3 separate regions of the Homo sapiens genome follow, and all the other regions are linked to region 3. Evidence: fine-mapped expression QTL. A gene starts in region 3. Each other region holds a variant in brackets. All regions are shown on one strand. Distances are from middle to middle.

Region 1 (10,458 bases), 180 kb before region 3:
TTTTTAATTTTGTTTTCTTTTTCTTAAATAGGAAGCCCAAAACTGCATAACCTTCAGGTCACCAAAGCCTGACTGCAGAGATCGTGGCAGTAAAACCCTCCCAGGTGACACTAAGATTAAAGTGACATTGCTATAAGACCTCTGTGAAATTCTAATGGCAAGCTTCTCACCTGCACGGAGAGGAGGAGGACTGTGTGTCGGGGGCTATCCTGGACATCACAACCCCACCTCTACAGACTTCAAAAATACACATGGATAGAGAAGTATGAACAAAATTAAATTTTAAAAAAAGGAAACCCTAGCCTCCCAACATGTCTTGCTTCTGCCCAGGATCTAAACGGTTCACAAGTATATTACATGTGTGTGACTCAGCCCAAGTCCCTGACTCCAGTGCTCACGCTCTCAAGGACGACGCCCCACTCTCTCCTGCCCTTTCCCCACAACGATTCCCTAAAGAGTCTTTTCTGCACACAAAAACCACCTTCGAAAGAACCAAAATCACATCACCTTCCAACAAAGAGGCATAAAACCCCTCGGAGGACATATCAAAATACTGAGCGGGGGAGACTGGAGCGCTCATGTTTCTCAAAAGTAGGCACAGGTTTAACAGAAGCTGAGAAACACCGAAGCCTTCATTCTACAGAGGAGGAGAGCGCGGCCCACCGCAGGTAACAAAGGGCCTTATTTTAGAAGTATCATCTCGGCCAGACACGGTGGCTCACACCTGTAATCCCAACACTTTGGGAGACAGAGGCGGGAGGATCACTTGAGGTCAGCAGTTAGAGACCAGCCTGGTCAACATGACAAAACCCCATCTCTATTAAAAATACAAAAATTAGCCAGGAGTGGTAGCACACACCCGCAGTCCCAGCTACTCCAGAGGCTGAGGCAGGAGAATTGCTTGAACTCAGGAGGTGGAGGAGGCAGTGAGCCAAGATCACAACACTGCACTCCAGCCTGGGTAACAGAGCGAGACTCCATCTCAAAAAAATTAATAAATAAAAATGATTTAAAAATAAAAACTATCGTCTCATCTAAAAAGCAGCATAATCAGCCGGGTGTGGTGGCTCACACCTGTAATCCCAGCACTTTGGGAGGCGGAGGCAGGCAGATCACTTGAGGTCAGGAGTTGGAGACCAGCCTGACCAACATGGAGAAACCCGGTCTCTAATAAAAATACAAAAAATTAGCCAGGCGTGGTGGCGCATGCCTGTGATCCCAGCTACTCAGGAGGCTGAGGCAGGAGAATCGCTTGAACCCAGGAGATGGGGGTTGCAGTGAGCCGAGATCACGCCACTGCACTCCAGCCTGGGCAATAAGAGTAAGACTCCCTCTCAAAAAAAAAAAAAAAAAAAACACAACCTGACCTCACACCTGTGATCTCAACACTTTGGGAGGCCAAGTCGAGTGGATCGCCTGAGGTCAGGAGTTCGAGACCAGCCTGGCCAACATGGCAAAACCCTTTCTCTACTAAAAATACAAAAATTAGCCAGGCTTGGTGGCATGCACCTATAATTCCAGCTACTTGGGAGGCTGAGGCACGGGAATCGCTTGAACCCAGGGAGGAGGAGGTTACAGTGAACTGAGATCACACCACTGCACTCCAGCCTGGGTGACAAAGTAAGACTCTTTAAAAAAAAAAAAAAAAAGACACCTGCCACTGAGCCAGTTCTGGTATCTGAGACTAAGCTAATACAGGTATTAAAACAGCAAAAATATGTATCTTCAACTTGGTAGTTCCTCCATAGAGCTACTATAAAACCAGCAATCCAAGAGATCTGAAAACATGTGTCCACACCAGAAACATGTACAGGAATGTACATAGCAGTATTATTCCTCTTTTTCTGAGATGGAGTTTCGCTCTGTCACCCAGGCTGGAGTACAGTGGCAGGATTTCAGCTCACCTCAACCTCTGCCTCCCAGGTTCAAGCGATTCTCATGCCTCGGCCTCCCGGGTAGCTGGGACTACAGGCGTGAGCCACCATGCTCGGCTAATTTTTGTATTTTCCGTGGAGATAGGGTTTTGCCATGTTGTCCAGGCTGGTCTCGAACTCATGATCTCAGGTGATCCACCCGCCTCAGCCTCCCAAAGTGCTGGGATTACAGGCACAACATTATTCTTGTTTTTTGTTTGTTTGTTGTTTTGAGATGGAGTCTCACTCTGTCGCCAGGCTGGAAAGCAGTGGCGCGATCTCGGCTCACTGCAAACTCCGCCTCCCAGGTTCAAGGGATTCTACTGCCTCAGCCTCCCAAGTAGCTGGGACTACAGGCGCCCACCACCATGCCCAGCTAATTTTTGTATTTTTAGTAGAGAGGGGGTTTCACCATGTTGGCCGGGATGGTCTCGATCTCTTGACCTCGTGATCTGCCCGCCTCGGCCTCCCAAAGTGCTGGGATTACAGGCGTGAGCCACCATGCCTGGCCAGGCACAGCATTATTCTTAATAGCTAAGGAGTGAAAACAACACAAATGTCCATCAACTGCCTGATACACAAAATGTTAAATCTATACAATGGAATATTATTCAGCCACAGAAAGGAACAAAGTGCTGATGTAAGCCACAACATGAATAACTTTAGAGCACTGTGCTGAATGAAAGAAGCTAAATACAAAAGGCCACATGTTGTATGATTCCATTAATAGGAAATGCCCTGAATATGCAAATCTATATATATCGAAAGTAAACCGGTGGCCGCCAGGGGCTGTCGGAGGGGGGAATGAGGAGTGACTGCTAATGGGTATGGAGTTTCTTTCTGGGGTGATGAAAATGTTCTGGAATGACAATGGTAACACAAGTGTGAATATACTAAAAATTACTGAATTGGCCAGGCATGGTGGCTCACGCCTGTAATCCCAGTACTTTGGGAGGCCAAGGCGGGTGGATCACGAGGTCAGGAGTTCGAGAGCAGCCTGGCCAACAGAGTGAAACCCCGTCTCTACTAAAAATACAAAAAAAATGTAGCCGGGCATGGTGGCAGGCACCTGTAATCCCAGCTACTCAGGAGGCTGAGGCAGGAGAATCGCTTGAACCCAGGAGGCGGAGGGTGCAGTGAGCCAAGATCGTGCCATTGCACTCCAGCCCAGGCGACAGTGCGAGACTCCGTCTCAAAAAAAAAAAAAAAAGAAAAATCACTGAATTGTACACTTTAAAGCAGTGGATTTTATGGCAGGTAATCGAGGCTCAATGAAGCTGTTATTTTTGACACACTAGATTTCTGAAACATTTATTGTTTACATGTTTCCGGACAACTGTTTTTCCCTCTACACTACTAGTCCTCCACACAATTAAAAAAACGAACAAACACACACAACAAAACCTAGCCAGATCTTTAGGACGGCAATGTTCCTGGGCCTCCAACATCATCCACCCGGTGCTTTGTTTCAGGTTAACAAATAAAGATGTCATAGGTAGCTATGACTACCTTAGAAACACGGGACAGTCACCAGTTTAAACTGGGGCCGTGAGGGATGGAAGGGAAGTCACTCCCCCATACCTTTCAACTGGGCCTTGCTTCCAGCGTTTTAATTCCTCTCTCTATAGAAACATTTGAAGACAGACAACGCATCCTAACACGGGAAAACTTTCGGTTAACAGACATTCACGTTGGGAAGGTCTGCAGGGGTGGAGGGGATTGGGGTGGGCTGACAGGGAGAAGACCACAGGCCAGTAGCCTGACTTCCTCTCCCCAGGGTTCCCTGGGATAAGTTGGAGTTGACAGCGCGCTTATCCCAGAGAGCACCGCCTGATGCCGCCCAGCTAGATCGCAGGCACTTTGAATCCAGGAGACAGGAGGGAAAGGGCTAGGGGAGAAGTCCGGGAACTCAGGGCGGGGAAAGCGCCGGGGGCGTGGGCTGTGCTGGGCCCCAGGCCCCAGCCGCGCGTCCCAGACCCCGCGGGCTCCAGTGGGCTTAGCCAGGCCCAGGGGCGGGGGGCTCCAGCGCCGCGGACGGCCCGGGAGGGGAAGCCAGGCGGAGACAGCTCGGAGGCACAGAGGGGAAGGGGACCCCCGCCGCGAGCTCGGGAGAGCAGAGCCGGCCCGGGCAGCAGGTGTGGGCCGGGTCCCGGACAGGTGTCCGCCGAGTCTTCAGCGGGTGTGGGACACGGCCTTGGACAGATGTAAGCAGAGCGCCAACAGGAGCAAGGGCGCCTCGAGCAGGTGCACGCTGAACCCCGGCCCGGCAGCGGACCCGGACAGGTGTGGCGGGCTCCGCCCGGACAGGTGAGGGCCGGGCGAGCCCCTCCGCGGGACGCGCCGACTCCACGGCCAGCCGCGCAGCCCTCCCCGCAGCCGGTCCGAATTGCCTGACCGGGAGCCCCCCCGCTTTGCACTTACACAGCCGGTGGCCCCGGGCCCGGAGCGGGAGCCCACGACCTGGCGGGCAGCGGGGCCGAGCAGCCTCTGCGGCCACTTCCCAGGCTCTGGGCTGGCGCTTCCTACTGGCGGCCGAGCCGGCGCTGCTCCTGCGCGTGCGCGGAGGCCAGGCCTGGGCCCCCGATCCGTCCCGGGTTTTGCAAGAGACGCGAGGGAAGCAAGGGGGTAGGAGCGAGGGAGAAA[A/G]GAGGAAGGAGGAGCGAGGGAGAGAAGAGGGGACAGGGAGGGAGGGGACATGGGGAGGGAGGAGGAGGAGGGAGGAGGGAGAGAAAAAGGTGGGGTGAAAGAAGGAGGGAGGAGGAGCGAGGGAGAGAAGCGGGGACGGGGAGGGAGGAGGAGGAGAGTAGGAGGAGGAGGGGTGAAAGAAGGAGGGAGGGGCAGCGAGAGAGAGAAGCGGGGGACAGGGAGAGGGTGGAGGAGGGAGGAGGGAGGGAAAAAGGAGGGGTGAAAGGAGGGAGGAAGAGGAGGAGGGAAGGAGGGAGATGGAGGGAGATGGAGCGAGGAGGGAGGGAGGGACCGGAGCAAGAGAACAGAGACTAGGAGGAAAGCTTCTGCACCTGGGGCGGCGCAGCTGGAAGGAGGCCCAGTTCTGTCCCCGCCGCTTACCAGTCCTTCAGGGCGCGCAGCTCAAATTTCACTTCCTCTGTGAAGCTCAGGGGTGGAGGCCCCGCGGAAGCCCACTGTGGATCCCTGCGGCACCCCCTGTGACCCTCACGGTACCCCCCGTGACTCCCACGGTCGTGCCCCCCACGTGGGTGGGTGACCGTGGCGCGCGCGGCCTGGGAGCGCCTCCAGGATCGCAGGGCCCGGGAGGCACGTGAGGTGCGAGCCCCAGCCTGGGCCGGCTTCCCCCTGTGTGGCGCGCGGTCTTGATCCCCAGCTGGCACCATGGCACTCCCGACTTTGAGGGCCCCAACAATCCATCCACATAAAAGGTTCCAAAGAGGCGACAGGGGCTAGGACAGCTGTCGTTAGTTCAGTGCCAAGGCGCCAAGCTTGCTAAGTGCGGGCAGAAGCCATTTAAGGATTTAAACCCCTCTGGGTTCAAAAATAAAATAAAATAAAGCAGGAGATGGGGGAGGCTTACAGACTTAAGATGCCCAGCACATGAATTAACAGTGGCATCCGCAGGGAAAATTGAAAACAGAGAGCCGCTCTCCGTTATGTATGTTTAATGTTCTGTTTGAATCTTTTAACATGTACATGTATTTCTTTTTCAATTAAAAAATCCTGGCCAGGAGAAATGGCTCACACCTGTAATCCCAACACTTTGGGAGACTGAGGCGGGTGGATCACTTGAGGTTAGGAGTTCAAGACCAGCCTGGCCAACATGGTGAAACCCCGTCTCTACTAAAAATACAAAATTAGCCAGATGTGGTGGCGCGCGCCTGTAATCCCAGCTACTCAGCAGGCTGAGGCAGGAGAATCGCTTGAACCTGGAAGACAGAGGTTTCAGTGAGCCGAGATCATGCGATTGCACTCCAGCCTGGGCAACAACTGCAAAACTCTATCTCAAACAACAACAACAACAAACACTAAAAAGGGCTGGGTGTGGTGGCTCACACCTGTAATCTCAGCACTTCGGGAAGCCAAGGCGGGTGGATCACCTGAGGTCAGGAGTTCAAGATCATCCTGGGCAACATGGTGAAACTCCAGTCTCCACTAAAAATACAAAAATTAGTTGAGCGTGGTGGTACATGCCTGTAATCCCAGCTACTAGGCAGTCTGAGGCAGGAGAATCTCTTGAACCCGGGAGGCGGGGGCTGCAGTAAACCAAGATCACACCACTGCACTCCAGCCTGGGTGACAGAGAGAGCCCATCTCAAAAAAAAAAAAAAAAAAAATCCTAAAATGGAAAAGTAAAGAGGACAGGAGTGGTTTTCTCAGCACATACAGCAGCAAGGGAGAAATGGTCTGAGCCAGCATTTTTCCTTTCAGCCAGCAGGCACTTACCCGCTCTGGGCTATGTGACCAGGGCTGTTTTATTATCACATGTGTTATAAAATAAGATACTATCCCTCATCCCTGCTCAGGGCTAGTGGAAAACCAATTGAGTTTTTATTGAATTATTTTCTACAGAGTCAGAATGAGTTATAAATAAAACATATCTTCAGGGCAAAACAAATAGAGCTGATTTCCAGCCTGCCAGACAGCCAGGAAGTTTTCAACAGAGGTGCCCAGGGGCTGAGGAAGAGTGTCTCCCTGACAACGCACAAGCTGCCCAACGTGGCTACCTCATGGTGTTACGACCGCATGGAGGCCGTGCAGTGGCTCACAGCTGTAATCCCAGCACTTTGGGAGGCCGAAGCAGACGGATTGCTTGAGCCCAGGAGTTTAAGACCAGCCTGGGCAACACAGGGAAACTCTGTCTCTTGGAAAAAATACCAAAATTAGCTGGGCAGGATGGCACAAACCTGTAGCCACAGCTACTCAGGAGACTGAGGCAAGAGGATCGCTTGAGTCCAGCCAGGTCGAGGCTGCAGTAAACCATGATCACTCTAGCCTGGGAGAGACAGCAAGACCCTGTCTCAAAAAAAAAGTGGTTTTTTTTATTTTTTTTAAATGAATAAATAAACAAAAGAGCGTATGGGCTTAACAGAGAATACAGAAAAGATACATTTAAAAGGCCACTGCTAATGGAGGTCTGAGTGCAGAAACTAGGCTCCAAGCTTACCTCATAAGATCCAAGCAAGGGAGCTATTTTTAGTGCTGAAGTCCAGAAAGGATACCCTACTTGGCTGGGGTCACACAAATGGCTGGTGCTATTTAGGGATTCAAATCCAGGGCTGTCAGACCCCACAGACTCTACTTTTTGCATAGGTCTTTTCTTATTCTGTCTGTAAGTGGATAAGGCAAGCAACTTGGAAAGCAAGATTGAAAGCTGGCAAAAGGAAACATTGCTTATTTGCAATGTACACACTTCAATCAATTTATGTTGCTGTCTCAGCAAATCTGTGGGGGAAGGAGAGCGGGGACTATTATTCTGCTTTTTTTTAAATTTATTTATTTACTTTTTTGAGACAGAGTCTCACTCTGTCACCCAGGCTGGAGTATAGTGGCACGATCTCAGCTCACTGCAACCTCCACCTCCCGGGTTCACGCGATTCTCCTGCCTCAGCCTCCTGAGTAGCTGAGATTACAGGTGCGCGCCACCACACTCGGCTAATTTTTGTATTTTTAGTAGAGACGGGGTTTCACCGTGTTGGTCAGGCTGGTCTCGAACTCCTGACCTCATGATCCTCCCACCTCGGCCTCCCAAAGTGCTGGTATTATTACTCTGCATTTTTACCAATGAGAAAACGGAGGCTCAGAGAGTGTAAGAGCCTGCCACAGCCCAGCCCACAATGATCAAATGAGAACATCCAAAGCAGTCCCCGTACTGTCTAGGTCCTGGGGCTGTGCTCCTTTAGCATCTTTAACATTTCCTAAGCATCTCCTCTGAAGGGTGACAATTCAAACATACAAAACCTGCCCTCAAGGAATTTACAGACATCTAAGGTTGGAAGGAATTTCTAAAATAACCAGGTCCAACCTCATACTCACACTCTCTCCCCTCTACAAAAGTCCTAACAGGCAGAATGCTTTGATGATGTGGCTATTTGTCTTAGTTGGTTTGGGCAGATATAAGAAATTACTAGAACAACACTGAGATCAGGGCGCCAGCATGGGTAGGGTGTGATGAAGGTCATCTTCTGAATGGCAGATGGCTGGCTTCTTGTATTTTCACATGACAGATAGAGAGCAAACTAGCTGTCTGGTCTCTTTTTTTTTTTTTTTTTTAAGATAGAGTCTCACTCTTGTTGCCCAGGCTGGAGTGCAGTGGCGCAATCTCAGCTCACCACAACCTCCACCTCCTGGGTTCAAGCGATTCTCCTGCCTCAGCCTCCTGAGTACTTGGGATTACAGGCATGCACCTCCACACCCAGCTAATTTTTTGTATTTTTTAGTAGAGACAGGGTTTCTCCATGTTGGTCAGGCTGCTCTCAAACTCCCGACCTCAGGTGATTCGCCTGCCTCAGCCTCCCGAAGTGCTGGGATTACAGGCATGAGCCACCGCACCCGGCCTAATTTTGTATTTTAAGTAGAGGCACAGTTTCACCATGTTGGCCAGGCTGGTCTCGAACTCCTGACCTCAGGTGATCCACCTGCCTCAGCCTCCCAAAGTGCTGGGATTACAGGCATGAGCCACCGTGTCCAGCCTGGTCTCTTCTTAGAAGCGCACTAATCCCATTCATGGGGGTTCTGCCCTTATGACCTAATTACCTCCCAAAGGCCCCACATCCATATATGATCATATTGGGGAATAAATTTAAACATATGAATTTGGGAAGAACATGAACATTCAGTTCATAACAAGCTCTACAAGAAAATTATCCAGTAAACTCAGCCAGAATATGCTTCCCTGAAACATCCAGTCAAGGGGTCTCAAGAAATAGGACCAAGCTGGCCTCGGTATCTCATGTCTGTAATCCCAGCATTTTGAGAGGCCAAGGAGGGAGGATTGTTTGATCCCAGGAGCTAGAGATGAGCCCAAGCAACATAGCTAGACCCCATCTCCACACAAAATTTAAAAAATAGCCGGCACGATTGTGCACACCTGTAGTCCCAGCTACTTGGGATGCTGAGGTGAGAGGATTGCTTGAGCTCAGAAAGTCAAGGCTATAGTCAGCTCGATCGTGCCACTGCACTCCAGCCTGGGAGACAGAGCAAAGAGTGAAACTCTGTCTAAATATATATACACACACACATACACACACACACATATAATATATATATAATCTATATATGGGACTAATGCCCCACAAGGCTTGCTGAGGTTGACAATTATCACAGCTGTGAGTTAAAAGTACAGGCTGGGACAGGTACGGTGGCTCATACCTGTAATCCCAGCACTTTGGGAGGCCGAGGCAGGTGGATCACGAGGTCAGGAGTTTGACACCACCCTGGCCAACATGGCAAAACCCCGTCTCTACTAAAAATAATAATAATAATACAAAAATTAGCCGGGCGTGGTGGTGGGCGCCTGTAATCCCAGCTACTCGGGAGGCTGAGGCAGGAGAATCACTTGAACCTGGGAGGCAGAGGCTACAGTGAGCAGAGATCGTGCCACTGCACTCCAGCCTGGGCAACAAGAGCAAGACTCCGTCTCAAAAAAAAAAAAAAAAAGTGCAGGCTAGACTCCAGCCTGGGCAACAGTGTGAGACCCTATCTCAAAAAAAAAAAAAAAAAGTTTAGGACAGAGTCCCTGCTCCATCACTCCCTAATTACTTGCCTTCCATATTTTCAGTTATTATATAAGGATAATCATTTCATAGGGCTATCATTAGGATTAAAGAAAGTGTGAGAAGGCAATTTGAGACAGAATGGACAAATTCTGTCACATGCTACTTGTACAGCCTCAGGGTAAGGTGACCATATAGCTTTACTTTCCTGGTACAATTCCAGCTTATGTCCTGGCTAACGGTGTTCCGGTTGGGTGATCCAATCACTCCACTTTGCACAAAAGCCAGCACCTCTCAAGGGTTTTGATCCCCCACCAGTACCATAAAGAGTTTCTTCTCCTTCCCGTGTTATAGGACTCCATAGTGTCATGTCTCACCTGGGCTTTCTAGCTCACAGGCTATGGAGGGAAAAAATAACTATACTTATTTAGCACAACTAAGAACCAGCTACTTGGTTAGACCTTCATAACTCTTCCTTCAAAATAACACGATGGTAACTACCATTTACAAAACTTTTTTTTATCTTTTTTTTTTTTTTTTGAGACAGGGTCTTGCTCTGTGGCCCAGGCTGAAGCGCAGTGGTGCGATCTTGGCTCACTGTGGATCCTCTTCCTCCTGGGCTCAAGCCAACGTCCCACTTCAGCCTCCCATCATGCCCGGCTAATTTTTGTAAATTTTTTTGTAGAGGCAGGGTTTCCCTACGTTGCCCAGGCTAGTCTGGAACTCCTGAGCCCAAGTGATCCGCCCGTCTCGGCCTCCCAAAGTGCTGGGATTACAGGCGTGAGCCACCGTGCCCGGCCTCATTTATGAAACTCTTATCTGGCAGGCAATGTGCAATGTGCTTGGCATAAATATCTCATATCCTC
Region 2 (10,458 bases), 41 kb before region 3:
GCTGGAGCTGGGTCCCCAGCTGATGCGTTCTACCCCCTCCCCCCGGTCTGACTCCCAAACTGGGGCAAACTGACCTCGACAGGGGCTCTGGAGCCCCCCAGATCTGTGAGGACACACCAAAAGTCAAATGTGACAAGACGGGGAGGAAAAGGAACCCTCGCACTTTGGGGGTCCCAGGTCCCTGGCCACAGAAGCTGCCCAAACACGGACGCCGAGGAAGCGGAGGCACAGATGGGGGTCCCAGGTCCCTGGCCACAGAACCCATCCAAATACGGATACCAAGGAAGCAGAGGCACAGATGGGGGTCCCAGGTTTCTGGCCACAAAACCTGTCCGAAAACAGACGCCGAGGAAGCGGAGGCACAAACATGCCCCACGGTGGAAGGGAGTCAACAGAACCCACCTCGCTGGCCACCGGTCACCCACCTCCACAGGGGAGGCTGCTCCTGCCTCTAGCCAGAGCTCTGCATCAGGAAGGAAGAGTGCACCCTCCAGCCCTGAGCAGGAGCCACTGCATCAGTGCTCCTCGGAACCAGGGGCATCGTCTCAGGAGCCAGCTGATGCCACCAAGGGGGTCTCAGTGTGGCAACGGGGAGCTGGTGCACAGGCTCAGAGAATACGTTCTGGGGAATGCTGGCCATCAACCAGAGCCCTAGGGCCCCTTTGCCCTGGGGACAGATCCTGCTGCAGCCTCAGGACCTCATGGGTCCCAGCTTAGGAAATGGCCCCTACCCCTCCTCCTGTGGGCATGGGGACACAGGATGTAGCCATCCACCACTGCTCCCTGGCTGCATCCACACGCTGAGAAGGAGCTTTTGCCTTCACTCCCTTGGGCCCATGGGAAGGCTGGGTCGGAATGAAGGAGGGAAGGAAGCTCTGGGTGCAGCTCTGGGTGCAGCCCCGGGTGGGGGCAGTCCTCACAGCGGGGGCAGCGGAGCTGTCCTCAGCAGCATCTTCGCACTTCTGTTGAGCACTTCTGTGTTCTGCAGGCGCGGTTCCTGGAAGGCTTTCGTTTCTGTTCTCCCTGAGTAGAAATTATTGGAGCATTTCCAACCTGTCTCAGCCTGGTTCTTGGCAACACCAAAAGAATGGGCCATGGGAGGCAACGTGAGCAGGGGAGCAGTCACCCCAAAGGCAGGGGCTGTAGAAGGTGCTGGGCAAGGACAGCAGGGAGAACTCCCCCAGGGAAGACTGGAACGCTGCGCTGAGGCCGACACAGGCAGCCTGCGCCTCCAGATCAGACTGATGATCATCCCTAAACCACTTGCTCCCCTCTTTTGGTTTAATGAGTAATAGCCTGAAAATATGTTAACCTTATTTTAGTGAGCAATACAGCGTGCACAGGAAGAGCATGACACACCCGTACAGTCTAGGACTGACTATAAACAAACACCTAAGCTCCCGCAGATGACTAACCATCAACACGGAATTTCCTGTTGGGGTTTTTTAAAATAAATGTTTGTGGTTCAACCTGAAACTGCAACCACCATTATCTCTTTGAGAAATGGTCCTGAAAGCCACCCCTGTGATCTTTACGAAGAAAACTTTTCCCCATAAATTATGAATACATTTTTCCTCACAAGTCAAAAACATCCTCTTTGATCCACCATCTGTCTTTACTGAACAATATTAGAAATACTGTAATAAGGCCAGGCACAGTGGCTCAAGCCTGTAATCTCAGCACTTTGGGAGGCTGAGGCAGGTGGATCACCTGAGGTCAGGAGTTCAAGGCCAACCTGACCAACATGGTGAAACCTCATCTCTACTAAAAATACAAAAATTAGCCAGGCATGGTGGCAGGCACCTGCAGTCCCAGCTATTTGGGAGGCTGAGGCAGGAGAATCACTTGAACCCGGGAGGTGAAGGTTGCAGTGAACTGAGATCGCACCCTTGTACTCCTGCCTGAGCAACAAGAGCAAAACTCTGTCTCAAAAAAAAAAAAAATACTATAATAAAGACAAAGAGGAATTAAAGGAATACTGGTAAAATGTAAGTTATCTCCTACAGAAACATTCCCCAATCGGGGCAACTGATGAGACCACAGCATCTCAACCACCGGCCCTACCAAGACAGACCCGCACGCTGGTCCAGGGCTGCTCGAAGCCTGACACCTCTCAGTGGAGACATGAAGAATGCCTTATGCGTACATTTCTCTGACTCTTCTCTACAGCCTTTTCTGGTTTCAACTCTAGATTTCTTTTGTGATTCCGACTCTGTATCTGCCTCTCCCACTAGAATGTAGGCACTGCAATATAGCAAGGACTGTGTCTGTTTTTGTGCAACTGTTGACTGAATGAATACACAGATGAATAAAAGAATATCTTCTTGTTACACCAACTCTTAGTAAAAATGCCTTATGGGTTTATGACTCAATCCCAAGTGTTTTTAGGACAAAACCATAAGGTATCCATAGGAAGGCTATTACTCTACCTTTTACAAATAGTCTTTACTGTTTGTTTGTTTATTTTATATTTTATCCTTTTTAGTAGAGACAGGGGTCTTGCTATGTCACCCAGGCTGGTCTCAAACTCCTGGCCTCAAGTGATCCTCCTGCCTTGGCCTCCCAAAGTGCTGAGATTCCAGGCATGCACCACAGCACCCAGCCTGTTTCAACTAAGAAGCCAACATTTCTCCAGCATCAACATTACTCCAGTACAAGACTTCCAGCACATTCTTGTCTCTTCTCATGTCCTCGCTCTTGGACTTGTCTTCATTGCACAGCTGAGGAGCCAGGAGCTCCATGGGGTGAGGTGACAGCCAGGGCACCTGGGCAGCAGACCACAGGGCTAGGACTGTGATTTCCAGTTTGCCCCTCCACCAACATCAGCCATCAAATCAGCTGACCGCCCTGATGAGGGTCCATGTGACATCTCTTGTACTTCAGAAAGAGTCTTGTTCTCCAAACTGAATCCTTTTTTCACCCAAAACATACAAGAATCTGACCTACCTAACACATGTATGTTCCCTGAAAATATATACACCTATTACGTATCAATAAAAATAGACCAAAACTTTTTTTTTGAGATGGAGTCTCGCTGCCGCCCAGGCTGGAGTGCAGTGGCGTGATCTCAGCTCACTGCAACCTCTGCCTCCTGGGTTCAAGTGATTCTCCCACCTCAGCCTCCCGAGTAGCTGGGATTACAGGCGTGCATCACCATACCCAGCTAATGCTTGTATTTTTAGTAGGGACGGGGTTTCACCATGTTGGCCAGGCTGGTCTCAAACTCCTGACCTCAGGTGATCCACCCGCCTCGGCCTCCCAAAGTGCTGGGATTACAGGTGTGAGCCACTGTGCCCGGCCGACATACACTGATCTGCCACCCTCATGCCTCGTATCTGTGCTAAGCAGCTAGGAAAGTTAAAAAAAAAAAAAAAAAAAAACTTTGTGCCCTTTTACAGTAACTGATTCATCCTAGATACCTAGTACTTTTCTCAATATTTACATAAAATGTTTACTTCCCTTTTTAACATAAGTTCCCATAATTGAAGAAGCAATGGCCACCACCATTGTGTCAGGTACAATGCAGACCCCTTCAGGCAAATCAGCTCCTTTAATCCTTACCACGGGCAAGGCAGGCAGGATCCCCATCCTACAGATGTGGTCCGAGGTGTCTGACAGGCAGAGCTGGGATTCACACACAGCACTCACGGCTACCAGAGCACACAAGCCTTGCCACCAAGCCACGCTGCCTTGAATCGATAACAACTATGCTTAAATCAAACAAAAGGAGCTGGAGGAACCAAATGCGTGACAATCCATCCTCACCAGGTTCACTCAGTTCCATCTGCGAGCACAGGAATACCTGCCCACCAGTGAGGTCTGCCGGTGCCAAGCCCTGCACTAAGGGTTTCCTAAACTCTACCTCAACGCACGATGCCACTCACCCTACACTGCCTGAGCACCTCCTACTCCTGCTCTCAGGGCGCTCGTCTTCAGAAGAGGGCAGGGAGGAAAACCATCACCATCTCCCTGAATGGGCAGGCAAGCCACTGGCAGCACTCGGGTTGGCTGGAGGGGGCTTGCCAGTTAAGGGGACAGGAGAGAAATAACTCAGTCGGAACAATTTTCTGAATATTTGAAGGAAAAAAATAAGGTGAGCTCCCTCTCACATCCTATTACAAAATAAATTTCAAATAGAAACTGTAAATAGATAGTATTTTTAAATGGAACAAAAATATCCACAGAAATATTTTAAAATTTAATAACCTTTTATAGTTTTGGGGTGGGAATGCTCTTTCTGGGATTACAGGCATGAGCCACCGTGCCCGGCCCTCTTTCTTAGAACCAAAAAGAGGTTGCAAAAGGATGATTTTTGGCTGGGTGTGGTGTCTAACACCTGTAATCTCAGCACTTTGGGAGGCCGGGGCAGGTGGATCACTTGAGGCCACAAGTTCGAGACTAGCCTGGGAAACATGGCAAAATCCCATCTGTACAAAAAAAAATAAAAAATAAAAATAAATAGAAAATTAGCCAGTCATGGTGGCATGCCTCTGTAGTCCCAGCTACTCGGGGGTGCTGAGATGGGAGGATCACTTGAGCCTGGGGAGGTCAAGGCTGCAGTGATCCGAGATCACACCTCTGCCCTCCAGCCTGGCTGACACAGTGAGA[A/C]CCCGTCTCGACGGAAAGAAAAAAACTGTGTGTGTGTGTGTGTGTGTGTGTGTGTATTTCTCTAATTGCATGACAAACTGGGAAATTTTTATGACATCATAAATACACAAACCTAAAGGTATAAACGTACATATACAGAGTTTATATAAACTAATGAAATCAAAAACTCCAACAGGAAATGGTGAGGGATATGACTGGATAGTGCATGAGAAAAAATGGCCACTCCCATCCATGTGGGGAGATTTCAAGCTTGTTTCAGAAGGCTTTTAAAATTACAAGCCTTTTGATCTGGTAACTCAACACCTAGGCATTTGTCCTAAGGAAATACCCAGGCGTCTACACACGAAAAGACTGAGAAGGACTGAAAGGTCCATCAGGAGAAAATGGGTTAAATGAACTGTGAGGACAGTTCAGTGACACTGCTTCTCCATTGATCACACGGCAAGAGCTCCATGTACTTGTAAGTGGGAAAAAGCTTCAGAATGGTGTTTGATGCAATCCCATCTGTCCTATATTATGCACACATACACATTTGGGGTATGAAAGGGAAAACTTAAGGAAGAATTATAAAACAAAATATTTATCGTGATTATTCCTGAGTGGTCAAGCTATAGTCTTTCCACTCTTCTCTATGCTTCTATTTATTCGTTTTATATCTTATTTTATTTATTATTTTATCTTATGAGACAGAATCTCACTCTGTTGCCGAAGCTGAAGTGCAGTGGTGCGATCATAGGGCTCAAGTGATCCTCCTGTCCCAGCCTCCCAAATAGCTGGGACTACAGGCGTGTGCCATCATGCCAGGCTATATATATAATATATATATATATTATATATATATTATTTATATGCCAGGCTATATATATTATATATATAGCCTGGCATATAAAATATATATAATTATATATAAATATTATATTATATAATATGTAAATGTTATATATTATATATAATTGTATATACAATTATATTATATACAATTGTATATACAATTATATTATATACAATTGTATATATTATATTTATATTATATACAATTGTATATATTATATTTATATTATATACAATTGTATATTATATAATATATAATTATATATATTATGTATTATATAATATATATTATGTATATAAATTATATAATATATATTTTATATATAATATATATAAATTATATATATTATATAATATATATATTATATATATATACACACACACACATACACACATATTATAGAGATGGAGCCCTCCTGTGTTGTCCAGACTGGTCTCAAACTCTTGGGTTCAAGCGATCCTCCTGCCTCGGCCTCCCAAAGTGTTGGGATTACAGCGTGAGCCACTGCACATGGCCTGTGCTTCTGTATTTTTTAAGTAGGTTTATTATATTTGTTATTTAAAACTAAATTATTTTTAAAAAATGAACAAACTCTGGGAGAAGGATGAATATTGGATACATCATTCTATTTTTCTCTGATATATCCCTAAGTTAAAGAAAACAGAAGCTGGCTGGGTGTGGTGGCTCATGCCCTGTAATCCCAGCATTTTGGGAGGCCAAGGCGGGTAGACCATCTGAGGTCGGGAGTTCGAGACCAGCCTGACCAACATGGTGAAACCCCGTCTCTACTAAAAATACAAAATTAGCCGGGCACGGTGGCGCATGCCTGTAATTCCAGCTACTCGGGAGGCTGAGATGGGATAATCACCTGAACCCTGGAGGCGGAGGTTGCAGTGAGCTGAGATGGCACCATTGCACTCCAGCCTGGGCAACAAGAGCAAAACTCCATCTCAAACAAACAAAAAAGCAAAATAGAAGCTTAAGATGTAAGCACAGATAGTCATTATGCCATTTAACAGATGCCCAGAGAGATTTAAAAAGTACCCAATGCAAGATCTGCAGTGAGCCCATTTTCCCAGCGTAGTCTCACAGATGAACAAAGTGGCATCTACAGGTGAGGCAGCACGTCCGGGTCACCTGCAGGCTGGGAGGAGTCGGTGGAGCAGCAGGGGAGAGGCAAGTGGCCGGGGTGGGGGACGGGCCCACGTCATCGCATGGCTGCTGTGTCGTCGTGACCGCTGTCTCATCCTGCGAGACACAACCCTGTCCGGGAGAACTCCCCTGGTGCCCACCAGCCCAGGGGGACCTGCCTGAGGGTGCCAGCCAGCCAAGGTGCAGACAGGCACCCTGGCCCCAGAGTGCGTCCCACTGTTCTGCACCGTTGCTGGTGAACATGTTGTTTGAAATAGAAGACTAAAGCCACAAAATGGGTTTTACGTCATGGTTAAAGGGAACTCACAGAGGAACTGTATAGAAGAAAAAAAAACTCAGCAGAAGAGCTGTTTCGTTCATTTATAACCACGCCCCTGCACTGTGTCCCAGCTCTGGCAGGGACGTTCCCTCCCTCTTCACACTTGCTGGGCTGAATCATCTGCAGAGGTGGCAGGAAAACCGCCTCATTTACATACACCCTTTCCGGCAAGCACAGCCAGGGATTCCAATTCCCAGAGCCTCCCAGCCTCTCCAGTGCCAACGCAGCGCAGCACGGATGCAGGGCAGCGTGGGCAGCGGTGGCATAAGGTGCTCACACCCAGCTGGAGTTGAAGTCTGGCTGACATTACTTTCTCTGACTCCGTTTCTGGCAGCAGCCACGGACACCGATGGGGGCTGGGTGGCCCCCCCACCCCCCCCCCCCCGCCCCAGGCCTCCCTGCCTGAGTGAGGGGCCCTTTCCTGGGGGATGGCCTCCTGGCTTCAAGCCTGAATCTTGAGGATGGAAGGAGAAATAAATGAGCATTCAGAAATCTCAGGCTCACTCCTGTCAGCTTCAGCCTCACTCCTGTCAGCTTCAGCCTGATCTACAGGATTAGCTTCTGAGGCCTAATTTTAAGAGAAAAGGAATCAAGAAAAAAAAAAAAGACATCAAAAATGAAAAACTGCCATCTGAGTTCCGTCCCACAGGGTTATAACACATCTTAGCCTTTCTGCCTGTCTTGAAAAGAATAAATGTCTATTTTTATCAGCGAGGCAGCAAAATCCATCAACATCTCCTGCTCATCTGCTGAAACGCACACGCCTGTTCCACTCATCACCGGGCTGTTGCGTCATCTGCCACCTGGGAGGACCAAGAGATGACCCTGCCCACCAGGGGCCTCACAGTAGATGCCAGTGCCAGTGCCAGCAGATGCTTGGCGGGGCCCCATGCTGGGCTGTAGGGCGCACAGCTCTCCTTTCTAGGTGCCAGGTCGAACACTGAGCTTACTATTGTACAAGATCTAACCCAGGAGGGTGAGAAAGGAGGAGATGAGGCAGGACAGCAAGAGGGACTGGGGTCCCACACAGCAGCTCAGCCACTGCCGACCTCGGGGTCAGGAAACAGACACCCACAAGAGCGTCCACGACCCGTATGGGAAGATGTCTGAACCCCGAGACGGCGTGTTCTGTGCTGGAGAACAACTTCCAGGGCTTTATCCAGGTGTTCTAAAGCCACAGCACCAAAAAGAATTCTCTTCGGCAAAGGCAGCAGGACTCAACAGGAAGCAGACGTTTGCGTTCCGTTACTTGAGGAAAACCAAATGCTGCTGACATTTCTACCCAGAGAGAGTTTGCATCTCTCCTGCTTCGCAGCCATCTTTCCTACGGTTTTACCAGGAGAATGCCTAGCTCTTCTCCAACCTGTGCCAGGCCTGACACTCAGCTCCTCTGGGAGTGCCTCCATTTCCCTGTGCGTACAAGCCCACGGTGCCGTAGGATCACCGGTCCACTCTGCGCGGCAGCACCGCACCCCGGAGCCGCAGCTCTTCCTCCCGCTTGCCCGACAGCCCTGGTGCCAAGCCCTGTCTGAGCCCCACCAGGAGGAAGCGCGTGCTGGCTGCTCTCCATCTGCTCTGGGACTCTGGCCTGCTGCTTCCTCTGCCTGCCACTCCCCAACCCCGTTTCCTCCTCTGAAAACTGGAGCTACACCTGCCCCAACAGGGCAGAATTACCTTAAATGGCACAAGACAATTGTACAGCAGACCCACCTCTTCTCCAAAGTTTTCAGGGCCCAAACCCAGACACCTCCTTGCAGGACTCATGGCTACCGTGGGCTCGCACCACCAGCCTCCCCATGCGTTTTCCTGCCTCTGCTTTTGCTCAATCTGCTCAATGACAGAAACGCGACAACAGAGGCCACTTTCTCCAAACCCAGCTCTCCCTCGAGGCTCCCATCCTGCTGCTCACGCTGAGGCCACTCTACCCTGCCCTCCGCAGCTCACAGGCAGACCTGGAGCCCAGTGACTACAGGGTTGGCCTCCTCATCTTGCCACCACTCACAATGCCCAGCAGTGTTAAAATCCGGCAGGATGCACCCGCTTGGGAAGCAGTCCCCAAAGCAGAATCGTCACCACATCTGAATAGTTTCTGCCATCCCACTGACAGGCCAGCATCTAAAAGAGATGTGCGCTGAGCGTCCGTTATGTGGTGGCGTCGCTGTGGTTTCTTAACCAGAACGCAAAATCCTGTGACCAGGATTATCACCGGCTCGTTTCATACATGAGACGGGGGAAGCCAAAGTAACCACTCAGGCCACAGCAGAAAAACGCGTGCTGGAATCTGAAACAAAGTCTGTTGGATTCCAAGGGTTCAACGTCTTTTGTGATGATGAAGACGAAGCCTGCCCAAGAGCAGTCAGAGCTGAAAGAAGAAAAGCAGGAGGGCCTGTGAATGCCCCCAACCCCCTAAAACCTGCAGCTCCAGGTCCGACACTCCCAGGTTTGCGTTTTGAATTTACACTACCTATGGGGTCCAGGCCATCACCTAAGTGAGAAATTTCACACGCTCACCCGGGGTGCTCAAAGCCATCTCTCTAAATGAGGTGCCTGATGTGCAGACAACCCTTATATGATCTACATCTCTTCACCTGTCTGGAAATCAAGACCCTCTCACGATTTTTTTGTTTGTTTTTCCCCGAGACAAGGTTCTCAGTCTGTCCCCAGGCTAGAGTACAGGGGCGCAATCTCGGCTCACTGCAACCTCTGCCTTCCGGGTTCAAGCGATCCTCCTGCCTCGGCCTCCAGAATAGCTGGGATTACAGGCACCCACCATCACACCTGGCTGATTTTTGTATTTTTCGCAGAGATGGGGTTTCACCGTGTTGGCCAAGCTGGTCTTGAAATCCTGACCTCAAGTGATCTGGATCTCTCAGCCTCCCAAAGTGCTGGGATTACAGGCATGAGCCACTGTGCCCTGCCCTCTCATGATTTAAAAGGCAAATGGACACAAAGACACATGCAGACGACGTGACAGCCTCTGTGAAGATGAGACGCCTTGGCAGGCACACTGTTAGAGCCAGAAAGAATCCAGCCAGCTTGCTGAACCACAATGCATTCCTATGTGTGAGCAACGATTAGAAAAGTTATTTTTTACAAAGATGTCATTTACAAACAACAAAAGCTGTAAGGCACAAAAGTGGGACATGTATGAAGTCTACTCGAAAGATGTGTCCTTTAATTACTCCTGCACTTGGCGAGGCCTCTGCTTCCCAGCCTTGTGTTAACTGTGGCCTCTGTTCAGACTCCTGCAGCACACGGAGGAGTCAGCGTCATGGGGTCTACAGATCCAAAACACAGGCCGGGCGCGGTGGCTCACGCCTGTAATCCCAGCATTTTGGGAAGCCGAGGCGGGCAGATCACCTGAGGTCGGGAGTTCGAGACCAGCCTGACCAACATGGAGAAACACCATCTCTACTACAAATACAAAATTAGCCGGGCGTGGTGGCGCATGCCTGTAATCCCAGCTACTTGGGAGGCTGAGGCAGGAGAATTGCTTGAACCTGGGAGGCAGTGGTTGCAGTGAGCCGAGATTGCACCACTGCACTCC
Region 3 (10,458 bases):
ACAAAACGGAGCCCAAAAAACAAAAATTTTGAGCAATGGGGCTCTTTCTAAAACCATTAAAGAAAAAACGGAGGGGGAGGGGAGGCACGAATGCTCTGAAGAAAAGAGATTTTAAAAGACGTAGGCCGGGCGTGGTGGCTCACGCCTATAATCCCAGCACTTTGGGAGGCCGAGGCAGGTAGATCACCTGAGGTTGGGAGTTTGAGACCAGCTTGGCCAACATGGTGAAACCCCATCTCTACCAAAAATACGAAAATTAGCCGGACATGGTGGCTTAGTCCCAGCTCCTCAGGAGGCTGAGGCAGGAGAATCGCTTGAACCCGGGAGGAGGAGGAGGTTGCAGTGAGCCAAGATGGTACCACTGCACTTCAGCCTGGGTGACAGAGCGAGACTCCGTCTCAAAAAAAAAAAAAAGAAAAAAAAGAAGACGTAAATATAACAAGTCAAATGCAGGGAGAAGAGAGAGGGTGGGCTAGCTTTAGAGGCGGAAGGCAGAGACCCAAATGTGTGTGTGAACTTTGGTTAAAATTCAGGATCCAAAGCACCCAACTGGAAACACACTTCTGAGAATATGAGAGAAATTGATCACAGACTGTTAACTGTCATAACGGCACTGGGGTATGTTCAAAACGTCTCCATTGCTTTAGACACGCATATTTAAATATCGAGGTAAAATGACAGGTCTGCAATTCACTTTGGAAAACGTCCACAAAGAAAAGGGGCATATTTGAAGCAAATGTGGAGAACCCTGATGACTGCTAAAGCTTCCTAATGGATAAATGGAGGGGTATTAAATGAGTCACTCTACTTTTATGTCTTTTCAATTATTTCACAATATTAACTATTTTTAAAACTCAAATGTTATGTTTTGAAGATTCACAGTAACGATTCGTGAAACAAAACCACATTTTATGAGACTGGACCATTACAGGAGAGCATTCACTGTACAACACACAGAGAATAAGCCCAACTGGCATTGTGGAAACTTTTGACATGGAAACTAGAAGTTAAAAAATAATTCTGCTTCTTCAAATTGCACAGGGTTTAGGAGTTTGGAAGCGTTTACATCTTTTTTTCCTATGCACTTACTTAAATTATTCCCCAAGGTTTATCAAAGACCCAAGGGGGACTCTGCACAAATACCCAGCCATGCCGCGATGGCCTCGGCCATGTCAACTGCCCCACGGGTAGAGGGTGATATCCTGCCATGGCAGATGGGCACCAGTATTGGGAGAAGTGGCCATACCTTCATGGGGACCACTGAGGGAAGGGGGAGAGGGGGCAGGAGGAGTTAAATGGCTCTATAAACCACAGTGAAGTTCAGCTCTTCTCAAAGTCACAATCCTATTTAGACAACTGTCAAGTCTTAGATGTCACAGAGGTTACTTTGTGGCAAATCTGCGAGGGGTGTAACACACGGGAGCTTGAAAGTGTAGCAAAACCATAAGAGACAATATCCTGGGGGCAGGCAATCACTAGACACAGATCAAGACCTTTAAATGGTTAAAAAACCAAAAAACTAATTTGTTCATCAGTGAAGGTTCAAGGTCATTGGAGAATCCACCCATCTTAAACAACTAACTCAGTTCAAAAAACGAAAAAATAGTAACATTTCTAACTTCAGATTCTAAATAGCATTCACATACGTCACAGCATTTGTTTGTGATTGGTATAATGTAGAGCTATTGTGAACTGCTTTTTAAATTAGTAAGTTGCCTAATAAGGGTGTTACAATTGGAAGTAGCAAAACTATTTGTAATTTTTCTTTTCTTTTTTTTTTTTTTCTTGAGATGGAGTCTCCAAGTCTCACTCTGTCCCCAGGCTGGAGTGCAGTGGCGCAATCTTGGCTCACTGCAACCTCTGCCTCAAGGGTTCAAGCGATTCTCCTGCCTCAGCCTCCCGAGTAGCTGGGACTACAGGCGTGCACCACCACGCCCAGCTAATTTTTGTATTTTTAGTAGAGACGGGGTTTCATGATGTTGGCCAGGATGGTCTCGATCTCTTGACCTCGTGATCCGCCCGCCTTGGCCTCCCAATGTAATTTTTCTATAATTCAAATTGAATGTCTTATAATTCTAAATTAGAAAGTATAAGATTAAAAAGAGTCTCAATGAAGACTATTCCAAAAATTCCTTTTACACAAAATTAAAAGCCTTAATGTGTAGCATAAAATGGAACTGCACCACAGACTTATAATTACAGCACGTTTGTACAACCTGAAACTTGGGTTCATTCCCATCCTGCCATTAGCTATGAATTATCCTGCAGACACATTTATTCTTTCAACCACTGTCCTGTTCCAGAGGGTCCACTCCCTACCAGGCCCACACCAAGGCAACAATCTCCAAAAAGCAGCGAGTGACAGAAACGAGCCTGTGGATCATGAGGGCCAAGGTACGCTGAAAAATGAAATCGACAAGACAGCATCCCGGGGCAGTGCACACAGTACAGCAGTGAGCTGGGGTGGCTTCCTGAAGCCCCGCTGTCAATGACAAGTATGCGGGCAGGTGCTGGTCCAGTCCAGCCCTAACAGAGACTTCTTACTGTGGGTCTGGGTTATAGGGCTTGAAAGGGACTGCCCTGAGGAAGGCACCCAGAGAACCAGCTCGGAAGTCGGACCGATTGTCCTGATACTCACTCACTGCTGTGTGACCTTGGTGAAGTTCTCAACCTCTGTGAGCCTCGGCTGTCTGTCTTCACAAACACCACCAACCTCAGCAAGTGGAGTGAATTAAGTAACACGCAAAACACAACACAGAAAGCTTGACCTTCCTTAAAGCCTCTTCACTTTTTCTGGGCCTCCAACTTTTAAAACCGATAACCTGAAAAAATGTAGTGCTGTCAGTCCCATAAGCTGGGTTCCTCTACAAAGAGGAGCTGGAAGGTCCCAACTCACAAGGGGATGCCCGGTCCTTTCCCAAGAGGGGGCCTGGCCACCCAAGGCCTCTAGAGGCCAGCACCTGCTCCAGGACTGCGGCCCCTCCCAGGTGGAGGGGGAAAATCATTCTTCAAACTGCTGATGGCCCTCAGGGGTTGAAAAGTTGGTCAGACTCCGCCTTGTTGAAGCTTTCTAAATGACATCAGAAAAAAGACGCGACATTCGCAAGGCACAGAGCCAACAGCTCCAGCAGTGGGGGCCACCATCAACGGACCAAGGTGGGCCAGGGGGCCTTCCGGACCCCACAATTTGGGGCCGGTCTGCAGCAACGAGGGCAGCATCGGGAATGCGAGCCTCCTCGCCCGGCCGGGTAAACATAAGCCCAGAGCCCGGCGGGGCCTGCGCCGCCTGCGGCCCGGCTGGGGCCCAGCGGACAAAGGGGAGCAGGCGGTGCCCCGTCCCAGCGGCCAGGCCGGCCGAGAGAGCCAGGAGCCACGTGCCCGGTGGGAGCACGCCAAAAGCAGGAGAACACCTGACCGTTTTTTTGGCCCACCAAGGAGACCGCCTTCTACTCTGCATTTAAAAAGAAAAACAACGCGTTACCGCTTTAAGTTTTTTAGAACTTTTCCAGAGAAAGGCCGACTAGCAACAAGGGGTGCTACAGGAATCCACCTCGCCTCACCTCTCCTAGGAAATTGTAAAAGGAATTAGCACTTGAATGGGGAGGCCGGCGTGTCTGGAATGAGAACGAGCCGCGCACGCAGTTTGAGGGTTCCGGGGAGCCGCGTCCTCCCCTTTCCAGGCGACAGCCCTAACTACAGGAATTGGCCAAAATTCAGCATTTCCAGACTTTCCTTGGGAAAAGGGGCCGAAGAAGTGCCGGCAACAAGAAGGGCCACAACGGAGCGCGCCACAGACTCACCGCGGCTGGGGTCGGGACCGGCGCAGCCCCCTCCCCTCCCGCCCGTGCGCGCCCCGAGCCGGGCGCCCCGACCCGGCCTCCACCCGCTCAGGCGCTCAGGGTCAGGCCGGGCCGGGCTGCGGCGCCCCCATCCCCGCCCGGGCAGCGAGGCCGGGCCAAGCGGGGCGCTCCGGGCCTCGGGCCTACACGCGGCGGCCGCCTCGGCCCCGGCCCCAGCCCGCGGGCCCCGGGCGGGGGATGCGAGGACGCTGGGACGCGGGCCCGAGGCGCGGGAGGGGCCCAGGCCGCGCGGGGCGCCCCGACGACTCGCGGGGGCCGAGGAGGCCGGGGCTGCGCGTCCAACGCGGGGCCGAGAAAACGGCCGGCTCGGCCCCGCCGCCGCCGCTCCTCGAGCCCCCAAGCGCGGCCCCGGCTCGCCCGCCCCCGGCCCCCGCCGCCCCGACCCCGCGGCCCCCCGATCCCCGGCCCCTGCCGCCCGCGCCGGGCCCGCCAACCACGGGCAGGAGCGCGCGAACGGCCGGGCGGGCGCCCCGAGCGCCAGGACTCACCGGGGCCGGCTCCCGAGTACATGGTGGCGCCGCCGAGGGGCTCCGGGGCCGAGGGGCGGCCGCGCGCGCGCCACGGGCCCCGACGCCGCGAGCCGCGAGGGAGCCGCCGGCCGCACGATCCGCCCCGGCGCGGCCGCCTCGCCAAACAGGTTTACCCGACGCGGCCGGGGCGGCGGGCGGAGGCGGCGGCGGGAGCGGGAGCGGGAGGGGCGGGGGAGGAAGGAGGAGGGAGGGGGAGGGGAGGCGAGGCCGGCGGCGGGAGCGCGCTCGCGGGGGGAGCGGGGCTGGGCGCGCGGGCGGGGTCCGCGGCGGCGGCGGCGGCGGCGCCGGGTCTGGCGGGGCCTGGGGCGGGGACCCGGGGAGGGGCCCGGAGACCTCGCCGGGCGGTGGGAACCGCGGGCGGGAGCGGGGACGAGGGCCGAGGGCGGCGCGGCCCGTGTGGCGCGGGGGCGGGCGCGGCCCCGGGGACCCTTCACTGCCACCCAGAGAAGCCGCGTCTTCCCGACGGGGAGGAGCCGGGCCCCCCGGCTGTGCCGCCGGAGCCGGAGGGGAGGCCACGCGCCCCCGCTTTCCCCGCCGCCCCCCGGTGGGGGGCGCAGAACCCTCCCACCCTCAGCCCCTCGGCCCCCAGCCTGGCTCTTTAAGTTACTACAGAAACACGGAGGTCGGGAAGCTCCCTCCCAGCCCGGAGCTTGAACTTGAACGCGGCCGGCCGCTCGCGCAGGACCACACCGCCACCTCCCGGCGCGGCCCCAGAACCCAGATAATCCGTTTAAAGCACTGAGAAAATCTAAGAAGTTTTTAGTAAACTGTAGCTGGTATCAGGGATCAGATCAGCGGACACGCCCATTCCAGCAGTCAGGGGCCTGCTCGGACCGTCGTGCACCTCCGAGCGTTTCTGTCCGGTCCCTCTGGGTCCGTCTGGTTTTCGGAGGCTTTCCTGGAAAAGCCAGCCTGTGGCTACCTCCTTTCTCCCCTAAGTGATGGAGGATTAGAAGGCAGAGGTTGACCCACAATCTAAAGTGCCTGGTCGCCTTTTCCCAGATTTCCCGGAGCATTCCTTCACCCCGTGGCATCGGCTGTCTGCATATGGGTGCAAGGCCCTGTTCCGGGCGGAGAATAAACAGGAGTTCTGACTGACAGGAGCTCCGCAGCCAGCAGGGTGGTCACTAGTTCTCTGCAGTCTCGGAGGACAGCCCTGAAGAAGGGCAGGAGAACCAGCACTTCCTCCGAAAACTCAAAAGGACATCAGTCTTCACCAAGTTGCCGATACAAAACGTGCTCCTGAAATGTGTAGTAATGAACACCAGGAAACCTGGGTAGGAGTGTGCATGGCATTCTTCATCACCGCTTGGACTGCATGGCACTGAATACCCACGGAGAGCAGGATGGAGAAACAGTGTGCTCATATTCACAGGATGGAATCTAGCCATTCACAAAAATTCCAAAACAGGCAAAATTAAACTGCATTCTTTAGGGAAGCATCATTAAGTAGTAAATAATTGACAGAAGGGCAAGAAGGTGCTTACTCTAAGTGTCAGAATGGTGGATACAGCTGGGGGTGAGAGGGCTGTGACCACAGCAGGGCCCCTGGGGGATTTGGGGGTGCCAGGCCTGTTCCTTCCTGCAATGGTGCCCTTTGGCAGCCATCCCTTAAACTGCACTTTTACTTTATATGCTTTTCTGTACCTTTACTGTAGTATTTCACGGAAATTTTTAAATAATCATGAATGTTACCACTTTCCTATTTATGAACCATGCAACCTCATCAATCTTCCCAGTTCGCAGATGCCCACCCTCTCTCTCTGCCCCTGTCTCCTTCACATATCCCCAAAACTCGTTTTGGCCCGAAATCCCTGAGGCCCAACTGCCCTGCTGTCAGCGACTGCACGCCTCAGCAAAGGCCCAGAAGGCTCTGTCATCACTGGCTGCCCTCAGCCCGCCTTCAGCTCCTTTGAGCGCTGTGTTGGGGAACTTTGTTGCAAGGATTTCGTTCCAGAAGGCAAGATAATGTCTCTGAGGGCTTCATTGTGTCACTTCTCTTTGGATGGCGGACACCGTGGCCCTCTGCTGGCGGAGGGGTGCCATTGCTGCCTGCCCCATCTCTATCCCCAGGGCCCATGCAGTCACTGGGTTCGCCCTCTGGGGCACGGGGTTCCCTCTGCTCTTTTCCTAGATAAGCCCATTCTCTGCAGGTCTCTACCCTCCACACCTGTGTTCAGGAATTCAGCCCGCTTCCTGCAGCCCCATCCCTACCCTCCTCCCAACCTGCTTTTCTTCTGGTGTCCCTCACTCAGCATGGCTAACAGATCCACCACCCAACGGAGCTGAGAACTGCAGTCCCCTCTGCCTGTTACCTCTCCTGCCATTAGTGAACCTGCTTAACTCATCTGACTGTGCGTCTCGGTGCTTGCTGTGACATGTCTCCAGCCCTTGCTGCTCTGTCCCCCAGACCCACGTCCCACACCCGGATGGTGACTCAGCCGACTCTGGGTCTTCTGGACCCAGTGCTTCTCCCTGATACAATTCCTTCCTCTGTGTTTTAGGATCCTGATGCTTTGATAAGACCGTGGGCTCTAATCACAGCCAGGGACATTTGCAGCAGCCTGGCCTGCAGCTCTGCACACTGGGTGCACTCAGTCTAAAGCACCAGCTCCCCATGAGAGAGAAAGAAGGGGTGAGGGGAAGTACAGAGAAAGCTCCTGAGGCCACAGGGCTGACAAAGCCCTCGGCTTTGGGGGCACTTTGTTTCTTCAAGACTAAAATGCAGGCAATGGAATAAATCATTTGTTCCTAAAACATGTTCTGCACATGATTAAAGCAGCTTTGGGAAGTCAAGTAAATTGGGAAGCACTGGATCAAACAATGATAAATAAGTTTATTGTCTGCAGGCCTTCTCAGAGCCTGTAGCAAGGTGAGAAGAATCATGCTTCTACAAAGAGGAAGGAGGGCATGAGACAGTATGCAACCTGTCCCAAACCCATTTAGCCACAGAACCCTTTTTTCACGAGGTACCTCAAGGTTCCGTGGAGCATAATTTAGGAAACACAGAGGTAGAGGTCTTCTATGATCCCTTCCAGCTCTAATAGTCTATGATTCTTTGAGTAATATATACTTTGAGACAGGATCACCAAAGTGAAAGTGTAGTGGCGAAAACACAGCTCATTGCAGCCTTGACTTCCCAGGCTCAAGTGATCCTCCCACCTCAGCCTCCTGAGCAGCTGGGACCACAGGTGCATGCCACCATGCCTGGCTAATTTTTAAAAACTTTTGTAGAGACAGGTCTCACTGTGTTGCTCAGGTTGGTCTTGAACTGCTTGGCCCAAGTGATCCTCCCACCTTGGCCTCCTCAAAGTGCTGGGATTACAGGCATGAGCCACTACACCTGACCTTATTTTTTTTGTTTTTGTATTTTTCTAGACAGGGTCTCACTCTATTGCCCATGCTGGAGTGCAGTGGTGCAATCATAGCTCACTGCAGCCTCCTGGACTTAAATAATCCTCCTACCTCAGCCTCCCAAGTTACTAGGACTACAAGAGTATCCCACCAGGCTCAGCTAATCTTTGTAGAGATGATGTTTCACCATATTGTCCAGGCTGGTTTCAAATTCCTGGGCTCAAGTGATCCACCAGCCTCAGCCCCCAAAGTGCTGGGACTACAAGTGTGAGACACTATGCCCAGACTGGTTTTTTGTTTTGTTTTGTTTTTTAATTAAAAACTAAGCAGGTGGCTCACGCCTGTAATCCTAGCACTTTGGGAGGCCAAGGCAGGTGGATCACGAGGTCAGGAGATAGAGACCATCCTGGCTAACACGGTGAAACCCTGTCTCTACTAAAAATACAAAAAATTAGCTGGTTGTGGTGGCACGCGCCTGTAGTCCCAGCTACTCGGGAGGCTGAGGCAGGAGAATCACTTGAACCTGGGAGGCGGAGGTCGCAGTGAGCCGAGATTGTGCCACTGCACTCCAACCTGGAGGACAGAGCGAAACTCCATCTGAAAAAAAAAAAAAACTAAGCAGGCCATATGCAGTGGTTTGTGCCCAAAGTCTCAGTGCTTTGGGAGGTCAAGGTGAGAGGATTGCTTGAGGCCACGAGTTCCAGACCAGCCTGGGGACCCCATCGCTACAAAATAAAAAAAAATTAGCTGAACATGGTGGCACACATCTGTAGTCCCAGCTACTCAGGAGACTGAGGTGGGAGGATTGCTTGAGCCCAGGAGGTCGAGGCTGCAGTGAGCTATAACTGTGCCACTGCATTCCAGCCTGGGTGACAGAGTGAGACCCTGTTTCAGAAACAAAACAAAAACAGGCCATGATAACCTCTTTAAAATCTGCCAGTGCCATCCTCCACTGGGTCTGCCAGCTGGGCCCCCTTTGCAGGATAGGGTGGAGGGGCCTGGATGTGGTGTTCCCTTGACTGGTGAGCGTGTCTGAATACAGGCCACACCTTCTGCTTCTTCAGGTAACCATCTCTAGACAAGAGGTACTTCATTTTGGCCCTCTGTTTCCTCTCAAGTTGCCATTTTTTTTTAATTTTTAATTTTAAGACAGTGCCTTGCTCTGTCTCCTAGGCTGGAGAGCAGTGGTGCCATCTCGGCTCATTGCAGCCTTCGCCTCCTGGGTTCGAGTGATTCTCCTGCCTCAGCCTCCCCAGCAGCTGGGATTACAGGCGCATGCCACCACACCCGGCTAATTTTTTGTATTTTTAGTAGAGATGGGGTTTCATCATGTTGGCCAGGCTTGTCTTGAGCTCCTGACCTCAAGTGATCTGTCTGCCTTGGCCTCCCGAAGTGCTGGGATTACAGGCGTGAGCCACCATGCACAGCCAAACTGCATTCTTTTTGTTTGTTTTATTATTTTTTTTCTTTTCAAACTGTATTTTTTTCAGGCAGGCATTGATCTCTGCTTTTTAGTCTGGCACACTTACTTACAGCCCCCTAAATTTAACTCTGAATCTAGTTCCTCTTCAAAGGATGGTGTCTCACCTATGAGGTGTGGGTGCCCTTGCCTTCCTTTGCCCCAGCCTGAGGACAGCTGGTGTTTCTTTTTTTTTTGAGATGGAGTCTCGCTCTGTTGCACAGGCTAGAGTGCCAGTGGTGCAATCCCAGCTCACTGCAACCTCCACCTCCCGGGTTCAAGCGATTCTCCTACCTCAGCCTCCTGAGTAGCTAGGAGTACTGGCATGCGCCACCATGCCCAGCTAATTTTTTGTATTTGTAGTAGAGACGGGGTTTCACCATATTGGCCAGGCTGGTCTCGAACTCCTGACCTTGTGATCCGCCCGCCTTGGCCTCCCAAAGTGCTAGGATTACAGGCGTGAGCCACCACGCCTGGCCCAGCTGGTGTTCCTAAGCATGATGTGAAGACCACCCAGAGCACATGAGAGATGCTGCCACAAATTGTTTAAGGTCAAGAGTTACAAATTCATCCCAATGCATCTTCTACAAAGTCCTTGGGAGATTTGTGTGGATGTGGTGTATCCAGCTTGTAGCATTTTCTGGAGTTAAAAGAGATAAATAAAAGCTATCTTTCACTAAAGATGGTGGCTTACACCTGTAATCCCAGCACTTTGGGAGGCTGAGGTGGGCAGGTGTCTTGAGCACAGTTTGAGATCAGTGTGGGCAACAGAGTGGGACCCTATCTCTACAAAAAATACAAAAATTAGTGGGACATGATTGTGTGCTTGTAGTCCCAGCTACTCAGGAGGCTAAGGTAGGAGATCACCTAAGCCCTCAGGGAGGCTGAGGATGCAGTGAGCTGTGATTGTACCACTGCGCTCTAGTCTGGGTGATAGAGCAAGACGCTGTCTCAAAACACACACACACACACACACACACACACACACACACACACAAAACAGCAACCTATCTTTCATAGGAGGAGAAACATTAAGTAAAAATTGTCAAAGAAGCCAAGTATATAATGATGTAAACAAGTGTCAATTTTTAGCTTTCCACAATGACTCCTTTATACTATCATTCTTACCTAGTATCATGTTTCTTTGAAATAATATACTGATACATTGTTTAGCAAAGATTTTGGCTGTAAGACCAATATTTTAAAATTAACCATAATTCTATATACTAATGACAATTAAAAATAAAAATTTATT

What was found.
Region 1: its variant is fine-mapped to the expression of AGO2 in whole blood (TOPMed, PIP above 0.99).
Region 2: its variant is fine-mapped to the expression of AGO2 in whole blood (INTERVAL, PIP 0.91).

Annotation. Positions count from the first base shown.
Region 1 is chr8:140,453,305-140,463,762 of GRCh38, forward strand. It overlaps TRAPPC9 (trafficking protein particle complex subunit 9), which reads right to left and starts at 4,440. Exons shown (of 23, transcript NM_001160372.4): 1 at 4,335-4,440. RefSeq lists silencers at 3,985-4,034, 4,145-4,534, 4,625-4,864, 4,985-5,294 and an enhancer at 4,694-5,212. The variant A/G (reference allele first, on the strand shown) is at 4,557.
Region 2 is chr8:140,590,192-140,600,649 of GRCh38, forward strand. The region is part of intron 1 of AGO2 (argonaute RISC catalytic component 2); the gene reads right to left. Among named protein-coding and RNA genes, the nearest start is that of ERICD, 39 kb to the right of the region's middle. RefSeq lists enhancers at 3,284-3,784, 3,581-3,630, 6,612-6,951, 7,300-7,802, 7,532-7,581 and 3 more. The variant A/C (reference allele first, on the strand shown) is at 4,609.
Region 3 is chr8:140,631,137-140,641,594 of GRCh38, forward strand. It overlaps AGO2 (argonaute RISC catalytic component 2), which reads right to left and starts at 4,497. Exons shown (of 19, transcript NM_012154.5): 1 at 4,349-4,497. The coding sequence starts at 4,370. It overlaps ERICD (E2F1-regulated inhibitor of cell death), which reads left to right and starts at 3,099. Exons shown (of 1, transcript NR_170171.1): 1 at 3,099-7,147. RefSeq lists enhancers at 1,968-2,735, 2,736-3,502 and silencers at 3,309-3,358, 3,842-4,011, 4,662-5,061.